3 separate regions of the Homo sapiens genome follow, and all the other regions are linked to region 1. The links come from fine-mapping of genetic effects on gene expression. A gene starts in region 1. Each other region holds a variant in brackets. All regions are shown on one strand. Distances are from middle to middle. Region 1 holds the start of AP1S2 (adaptor related protein complex 1 subunit sigma 2). Region 2 overlaps ZRSR2 (zinc finger CCCH-type, RNA binding motif and serine/arginine rich 2). Region 3 has its middle 50 kb from the start of AP1S2.

What was found. PIP is the estimated chance that this variant, and not a neighbour inherited with it, causes the effect.
Region 2: its variant is the best candidate, but not a certain one, in a credible set for the expression of AP1S2 in fibroblasts (GTEx, PIP 0.69).
Region 3: its variant is the best candidate, but not a certain one, in a credible set for the expression of AP1S2 in monocytes (TOPMed, PIP 0.50).

Annotation. Positions count from the first base shown.
Region 1 is chrX:15,853,423-15,856,227 of GRCh38, forward strand. It overlaps AP1S2 (adaptor related protein complex 1 subunit sigma 2), which reads right to left and starts at 1,391. Exons shown (of 6, transcript NM_001272071.2): 1 at 1,266-1,391. RefSeq lists silencers at 818-1,107, 1,328-1,607, 1,698-1,807 and an enhancer at 1,425-2,029.
Region 2 is chrX:15,820,463-15,823,136 of GRCh38, forward strand. ZRSR2 (zinc finger CCCH-type, RNA binding motif and serine/arginine rich 2) reads left to right here. Exons shown (of 11, transcript NM_005089.4): 11 at 2,269-2,674. Among named protein-coding and RNA genes, the nearest start is that of ZRSR2, 31 kb to the left of the region's middle. The variant C/T (reference allele first, on the strand shown) is at 1,450.
Region 3 is chrX:15,903,827-15,906,631 of GRCh38, forward strand. No RefSeq gene overlaps it. Among named protein-coding and RNA genes, the nearest start is that of AP1S2, 50 kb to the left of the region's middle. The variant G/A (reference allele first, on the strand shown) is at 1,521.

The DNA of each region.
Region 1 (2,805 bases):
CCAATTGGTCATCTCAACTGCAAACAGAAGTATTGTTTCTACAAAGGTAATTTAAAGGCAGAATTCACATAGGTATCCTTTTTTCTTTTAATCACTGTTAAGTTCCTTTAACAGCGTTACTGCAAATAAGATTCAAGCATGATTCTCAAGATTCACCACACCATCTTGAATTTGAACACGGGGAGGGGAAATTTACAGAACCAATGTAGAATAAAAATGGGCCCTAAATTTCGGTAAGAAATTATCGTCGCTTTTTGTAACCACCCAAAAAGGTATCAACAAGATATCTAGAAATGTATGACGTGGCAATTCAACTTTAGTAAAGTTAAAATGGTCTTATTACCTCACTTAAAATGCGTCAGGGGAACAAAATATAAGGACATTATTAGGTGATACCAAAGTGCCTCCCGTGCAAGTCCTGAAGATAGCGGCATTCGAAGGGGGCAGGAAGTGAAGCATCAACTGGGCATTTACTGCAAACCCGTTACCAGAACTTGGAAAAGAATGGACCTCGTATTCCTAGATCTTGGTGACCAGAAAGGGTGAGGGTTTGCCTGCGAAGAGTATGGGCTCAAGGCTGTCTGGAGCAGGGTCCTGTATCCGCCCTACCACTTTGCAGGACGAAAAAACAATGTATTCTCCTTAAAATAAATTATGTCCTAACATGGGACGAAACCCGGTTGCAAAGCACGAGTATTCCTTCCCTCGTGTTAAAAACCAACGCTTTGATTTTGCCGCAAATCACAGGGCACCACAATTCCTCGAGACTGGCATTAAAAACAATGGGCTCAGCCGCGGCGCGGGCTCGGGGCCAGCGTTCCTCGGGTCCGGCCGTCGCCGGTGCCTCCCCCCCACTCCCGTGGCCACACTCCATCACTGACCAAGCCCGGGAGAGGTGACAGGCAAGGAGCGGAGCAGACAATGGCATCCGCCGCCGCGCAGGGGGCGCCAAGAGTCCTCGGCCGCCACCGCCCCCGGCCCCTCCCGAAAGCGCCCCGCAAAACTTGAGGCGATTCCCGAACCACAGGTGCCGCGAGGCTGTCGCGGAGCCCGGGACTGGCCCCCACATCCCCGGGCGCGGCGCGGAGTGGTGCGGAGGGCGCGGACACGGAGAGAAGTGAGTTGCGGGCGCGGCGACCCAGTGGCGGGCCGGGCAGGCTCGGGGTGGGGTCGTCGGGGCGCGCGCGGGGTGGCGGGGGGCGCGCCCAGTCCTCCCTCCCCCTCTCCCCCATCCCCGGCGCCCCCTTTCGCCCCCAGGGACTTACGGCGGCCGCGGGCCGCGGGCGCGGCGGAGCTTGGCCGGCGGCGGCGGCGGCGGCGAAGGGGAAGCCCCTGTCGCCGTGCTGAGGAAGAGAAGCCGTGGTGCTGTGGGGAGGACACCCGGCTGGCATAGGGCAGGCTTAGGCGGAGAGGGGAGGGCAAGCTGACAGACCCCGCCCCGGGGGCCGGACGAGGGAGGAGCCGGGGCTGCGGCGAGCTGAGGGGCGGGCTAGGCGACGCGCGGGAAGCGGCTCAGCGGTCGCCAGCGGCACCGGAGGCAGCGCGGGTAACCGCTGAGTCCAAGGCAGCCGATTGGAGGTTTCTTCGCTGAGGGGAGGTGCGAACCGGAAGCCGGGCCACGTGACCCGGAAGCGGCGTTTGCCGGGCCCGAGCGCCCGCGCGCCCGCGCGCTCTTGCAGGTGCCTCCGGGACGCGCGCGGGCGGCTGTCCTGCTTGTTTAATGATAGGAGGACGGGATTCTGCAGCGTCCTTAGCCTAGCGGGTGGTGCGGGGCAGGGAAGTTCCGGACAGCGAAGAGCCACGTTCGAGCTCTAATGATTCTCTGTGTCCCCAGAGAGGAAGTGTGAAGTGTGACGGCTGACGAGGAGGGTGGGAGGAGACGAGGGAGTGCTGCAACTCTGGAAAAACAAGTCAGCTCTTCTGTGGAGCTCGTCACGCATTCACGGGCCTTTTGCTATCATTCTGCCTCAAAATTGTCCGGAATCCGCCCTCTCCTTCCCATTGCACTGCTCCAGCCCTAGCCCAGACACCTTCCGCCCCGAGCTTCGCGGGAGTCTGTTCCCTGGGCTCGCCTCGCCCATCCTCGGTGCTGCGGACTGGATGAGTTACCGTCCGTTCGGCTGAAAAGCCCGGACAGCACCTCACCTTCGAGATCCCGCTTCCTTCACACTGGGTCGCCCCACCAGCCGCCTGGGTTCCAGTTTAGCACTGCCGACGACTTGCTGTGCCTGGCATGTCCTTGCTCCCAAATGTCACATCTATGAAGCCTCACCCTAAAACCCTGTAAGAGCGATTCCCTCTTTCACCCACATGCCCGTTAGCCTTTATTTAGCACACCTTAAATTGTATTCATTTTGCATCTCAATCTAGTTCACAGCCTGGTATATAACAACTAATAAATGTGAGTTGACTGATAAAGACTATAAAATGATAAATTTGTTAAGAGCTGTAATGCTGAGCGTAATGCCTGGGCATAATGGATGTTCATAATTTTCTGAATGATAGAATGGATGAATCATCTAGTCATTTACAGATAAGGAAAGGGGAGTCCCACGGGATTAGGTGACCTTCCTTGAAGAGCCACGGGTTTCCCATATCGAAATGCTATTCATTACCCGAGTCACCTAGGTTCTTACAAAGGAAGCGAGAAAATTGCTTTTGTTGGGCCATGCCCCTTTTGCAGAGGTTCCTAAGTATAGTCGCCAGAATTTTTTTAATGGCCTAAAGTAAAAAAAGAAATGCTAAAATTTTCACGAAGCTAAATGTAATCAATGTAAAGGAATCCTTTATTAGGGATTATATTCT
Region 2 (2,674 bases), 33 kb before region 1:
CACCACAGTTTAGATCTGTAACCGACCTCAATGAGTCACTTGATAGATGAAGTGACTGAGGTCACAACGTATTGGTGACAGAGGTGGGGCTAGAATTCCAGTCTTCCAATCTTCAGTCCTGGGCTCTGTGTCTGACAAATCAGGAAGCCTGAGGAGTTTACGTCTGTGGAAGCCCCATTTCCCTTGTTGCAGTTTCAGAGGTATTTTATATTCATTGGCTCACTTCACTTGAGCTGTTTGTTTGTTTCTTTCTTTCCATCTTTATCCCTAATGAATCTTCTGTCATGACCACCTACGTTACCTTGCCCATAGCATTTCCTGCCTTACTTGGAATAATACATCCTTCTGTGCACTAGAGACTAATTGTAGGCTTGGGATCAGTTAAACATGAATGCAGTCAGACTGACATCGGACAGTGGCAACCCAATCAGGAAATGATCCAGTCTTGTGCAGAATAGCCAGCAGTTTTGAAGGCCTAGTTATGTTCTGATTTCTCTCAGTGGACTGTTCCCTAGGTGAAAAGAGATGAGCTCTAAATGCCTCTGGGGAGCACTTATCTTACCGTTTACTTGTGTTTCTTTGCTGTATACATGCCTGCCTAACGCAAAGTCAGAATCTTTGGCAAGCTTGTCTTCCTTGGATTCTGTCATTCTGAAACCATTTATGAAGGGAAAAGAAAGATTTTAGGATTCCTGGCTAAGGGAAACCAGAAGAACCATTACACTTTAAAGGCTCGGGGGATGGAAGAGGTGGAATTGTTCGCTCCATAAAGGCAGTTACTTTTGTCAGTTCCTGGGAATCCAGTGTGAGTTCAGTGAGGAGCTTCTGAGTGTGACCTTGACTCCTCCAAAGCAGGGGACTATTTCATTAAAAAAAAAAAAACACTTTATTTTCCTTATTGACTAAAGACACTGAGCATCTTTTCATTATTGGCCATTTGTATGTCTTCTTTGGAGAGATGTCTGTTTGGATCCTTTGCCTATTTTCTAACTAGGCTCTTTGTCTTTTTATTATTGAGTTGTAAGAGTTCTTGGTATATTCTCCATACAAGTACCTGGTCACAAATATGATTTGCAGATATTTTCTCCCATTTTGTAGGTTCTTTTCACTTCATGTTCTTTTGAAATACAAGTTGTAAATTTTGATGAAATCCAACTTAACTATTTTTTTGTTTGTTTTGGTGTCACATCTAGGATGACATTGCTTAGCCCAGGGTCACAAAGATTTACTTGTATGTTTTCTTCAAGGTCATAGTTTCATTTCTTAACATTTAGGTCTTGGATACAGTTTAATTTTTGTATATAGTATGTGGTACGGAGGTATTTCACTTCTAACTGTTGTGCATATCTGGGGAATTTACTGCTTTTAAAAAACGTTTGAGAACCCCAAAGATCTCAAAATTGTTCGAATAGATTTTATCTGTGATAAGAATCTTCTGTATTAAAAGCA[C/T]TTAGTGAATTTGAAGCATTAGTGTAATGTTTATAATCTTAAAGTTTAAAGAAAATATAGACTCCTCTATGTTTAATAGGCCTTCTCTTTTTTTTTTGAGAGTGAGTCTCACTCTGTCGCCCAGGCTGGAGTGCAGTGGCATAATTTTGGCTCACTGCAACCTCCACCTCCTGGGTTTAAGTGATTCTCATGCCTCCGCCTCCTGAGTAGCTGGGATTACAAGCGCCTGCCACCACGCCCAGCTAATTTTTGTATTTTTAGTAGAGATGGGGTTTCGCCATGTTGGCCAGGCTGGTCTCAAACTCCTGACCTCAGGTCTGTGCCCGCCTCAGCCTCCCAAAGTGTTAGGATTACAGGTGTGAGCCACCGCACCTGGCCACGCCTTCTCTTTTGACCAGTGGTTCTGGCCTGTTTCCTCCATGCCATCAAACCGTGCTACCACAGGGACCCAAAGAGCTGGCTATTTGATGTTAATCAGGGATCAAAATCGTCAATCAGTGGGAAGGTGAAACCTGGAGAAGATAACGTGGTCACCATTTGCTCAGTTGCAGTCTGCACCATAATCCAACAGGGGCACAGGCTATTCTGCTTAATGAAAACTTCTGATTTGTTACCTTTCAGAGTGTCATTTATTAGAGCACGTTTGAAATCGTGGGAACCAAATTATGACATCAATTTATGTAAGCCCCTTTTACATAATACACAGTAGAAAATAGTTCTAGCATATCCAAATATCAGAAATGTACCTTCGGAAAAGGATAAAGTAGCATCTTCAGAATATGCAGTGATAAGTGCTGTTTCATCACTGTGCCATTGCAGGTTTATTTGAAATACAACAATGTCCAAGAGGAAAGCACTGCAACTTTCTTCATGTGTTCAGAAATCCCAACAATGAATTCTGGGAAGCTAATAGAGACATCTACTTGTCTCCAGATCGGACTGGCTCCTCCTTTGGGAAGAACTCCGAAAGGAGGGAGAGGATGGGCCACCACGACGACTACTACAGCAGGCTGCGGGGAAGGAGAAACCCTAGTCCAGACCACTCCTACAAAAGAAATGGGGAATCCGAGAGGAAAAGTAGTCGTCACAGGGGGAAGAAATCTCACAAACGCACATCAAAGAGTCGGGAGAGGCACAATTCACGAAGCAGAGGAAGAAATAGGGACCGCAGCAGGGACCGCAGCCGGGGCCGGGGCAGCCGGAGCCGGAGCCGGAGCCGGAGCCG
Region 3 (2,805 bases), 50 kb after region 1:
ACTAGTAAGTAACTCTCTTACTAGTCTTAACAGTGACTAGTAAGAGAATTATAATTCCCTCTCCCACCCCCAATCCCCACCATTTGTTAAAAAATAAAAGATGAAAGGGAGACTCAGATAAGTTAGCTTGCCCAAGGTCACGTCTTCCAAAATGGCAGAGTCAGGTTCTACCTCAGACACCTGGCTCCAAAATATGTGCTGTTTTCACTATAACTCACTAACTGTGAACTGTTATCTTTGTCATTTTGTTTAATCCTGTTTTCCTCTGTCATGAATTGGCAATTAATTTATAGTAATTTTTTTATGGTATTAGCAGTTCACTGAAAATAAGGTTGCCAGATTAAACACTAAGCAATATTTGGAACATTTTTTTTTGTTTGTTTGTTTGGCAGAGTCTCACTCTATCTCCCAGGCCAGAGTGCAGTGGAGCAATCGTAGGTCACTATAACTTCAAACTCCTGGGCTCAAGTGGTTCTCCCACTTCAGCCTCCTGAGTAGCTGGGACTACAGGTGTGCACCACCACACCTGCCTAATTTTCATTTTATTTTTTTGTTGAGACAGGGTCTTGCTATGTTACCCAGGCTGGTCTCAAACTCCTGGGCTCAAACGATCCTCCTGCCTTGGCCTCCCAAAGTGCTGGGATTACAGGCATGAGTCACAGTGCCCAGCCTGGAACATGTTTATACTAAAAAATTATTTGTTGTTTATCTGAAATTCAAATTTAACTGGGCAACCTCTATTTTTAATTTGCTAAACCTGGCAAACCAAACCAAAAATCTTTGAAAAAATATTATTTCTAGTGAGGTTATCCCCCTCATAAGGTAGAGAAACACATGGAATAGGTTGGTTACTGAGTGAAGACCTTAAATAAGTCTTCTCAAGTCTTAACGAGGGTTAAGGATTTGCCCCCTCCACCCACCAAGGGAATTTGGCAATGTGTGAAGATGTTTTTGGCATCCTGACTGGAGAGGGGTGGTGCTACTGGCATCTAATGGGTAGAGGCCAGGGATGCTGCCAAACATCCTACAATGCACAGGACAACTCCACAACAAAGAATGATCTGATCCAAAATGACAATCGTACCAAAGTTAAGTGACCTTGCCTTAAAATTTTCGCTGGTCAACCAGTAAAGAGAATTCTAACTTAAATTTTCCTTAAAAATCACTTAGTATAAAAAAAGTCACTTATTTATACTAACATAGTATACATCCAGAAGTACTATATATATAACATTAAATATATAATATTAAATATACATATACATATTTAATCCCTTTGAGGCTAGCAATACATTTCCATATAAAGATTTGTCTTTTTCTATTTCCCAGTAATATAATGCTAAAGCTGTTTATTTATCTGGACTAGTTAATTCACAATTATGGATGCTGGTAGCAGCAAAAGTTGACTCAATTTTTAAAAAATACCTTAGCATTTATGACCATAGACTATTGATTTCAGATTTGAGTCTTTACTTGTCTTTAATTATGTTCATTGAATAATGTTCTTGTACTAAGGGCAG[G/A]CTTAGAAATAGTGGTCTTGGGAAGCAACCTAGATATCAGGTTGAGCCATATGGTGGTCAAAACTGGTTGAATACTGGCAATTTAATGTGGTTTGACCTGATGTATGCTGTGCAGTTAGATGGCACAAAATGAAAATGAGCTTTAATCCAATCCATGCTTCGAATCACAGTTAGAGCCTTCGTTGGTCCCCAGAGCTGCTGTAGCTTTTGGTCCTGGGTTAGAACTTTTGCTGAGCAGTTGGAGAGGCCGTTTTAATTTTTTGTTTTAATTATTAATGGAATTTGGGAAACTGTCTTTCAGCTCTTTGCAGCGCCAGCCTTTTTCTCCTTTATCTGCATCCACGCATTTCACTGAAGTTGGTCATATAGAACTTGGGCCCCCAGGTGCACAAAATGTGCCCAAGCCTTTAATAGCAAGTAAGTCAACCAGTAAAGAGAATTTTAACTTCAATTTGTGGCCTTTAAAAAGTTGTATCCAGATTTATCTCAGGGTCCTGAAGTAAGAAAAGGAATAGTATATTATAAATGTATTTCTTTTAAGGAGCCCCTAGAGGTAGGGGACACAAGAGAAATGCCAACTGCCCCTTGTTCAACACTCTTGAAGATAAATATTTGCTACATTTTAGTGTAATAGATTTATAAAAAGAAACTTCTGTTTTTTTTAAAAAAAAGACTAAAGACAACATATACTAAAATGATTTGAATTTTACAGATGATACCCTGCTAATATTTTTAGTTCAGCACCATCTGTTTATCTGAAATTAAATTTCTAGCAAATGGTCATGCCAGGAGATGCTGTTTTTATTTTTATGTGCAGCTGAAACAGAGAATAATAAAAATCTGCTTGAGTTGAAGAAATATGTTCATAAAATGTTTCTTTTTTAATCTGAGTTGGCTGAGAAAATGACTTTTTAATCTAGTGGCAGCTGCTTTCATTTGGCTGGTTTTCAGTCTAAATAGTTTATGTTGGAGACAGATCATTTGTTTTATATTTGGATGTAGTATAATAAACAGTGTCTTTTGAGCTATGAGGAAGACCCAGATATCACAAATATCTTATTATCCCTATTAGCCTATCTTTCTAATTATTTCTTGTTTCTTTAACCAACACAAGTGGCATGCAATAGGTCTGTAAATTGAAAGTACAAGTGGCAAATTGCATATCACCCGATTGCTGTGTTATTTTTATTCAACTCTAAGAAAGTTACATCTTGCACATTAATTGGTGTTTGTTTACAGGAGGGAAAAACGATGCTTTTGAAAATATGACTCAGTGGAAACACTT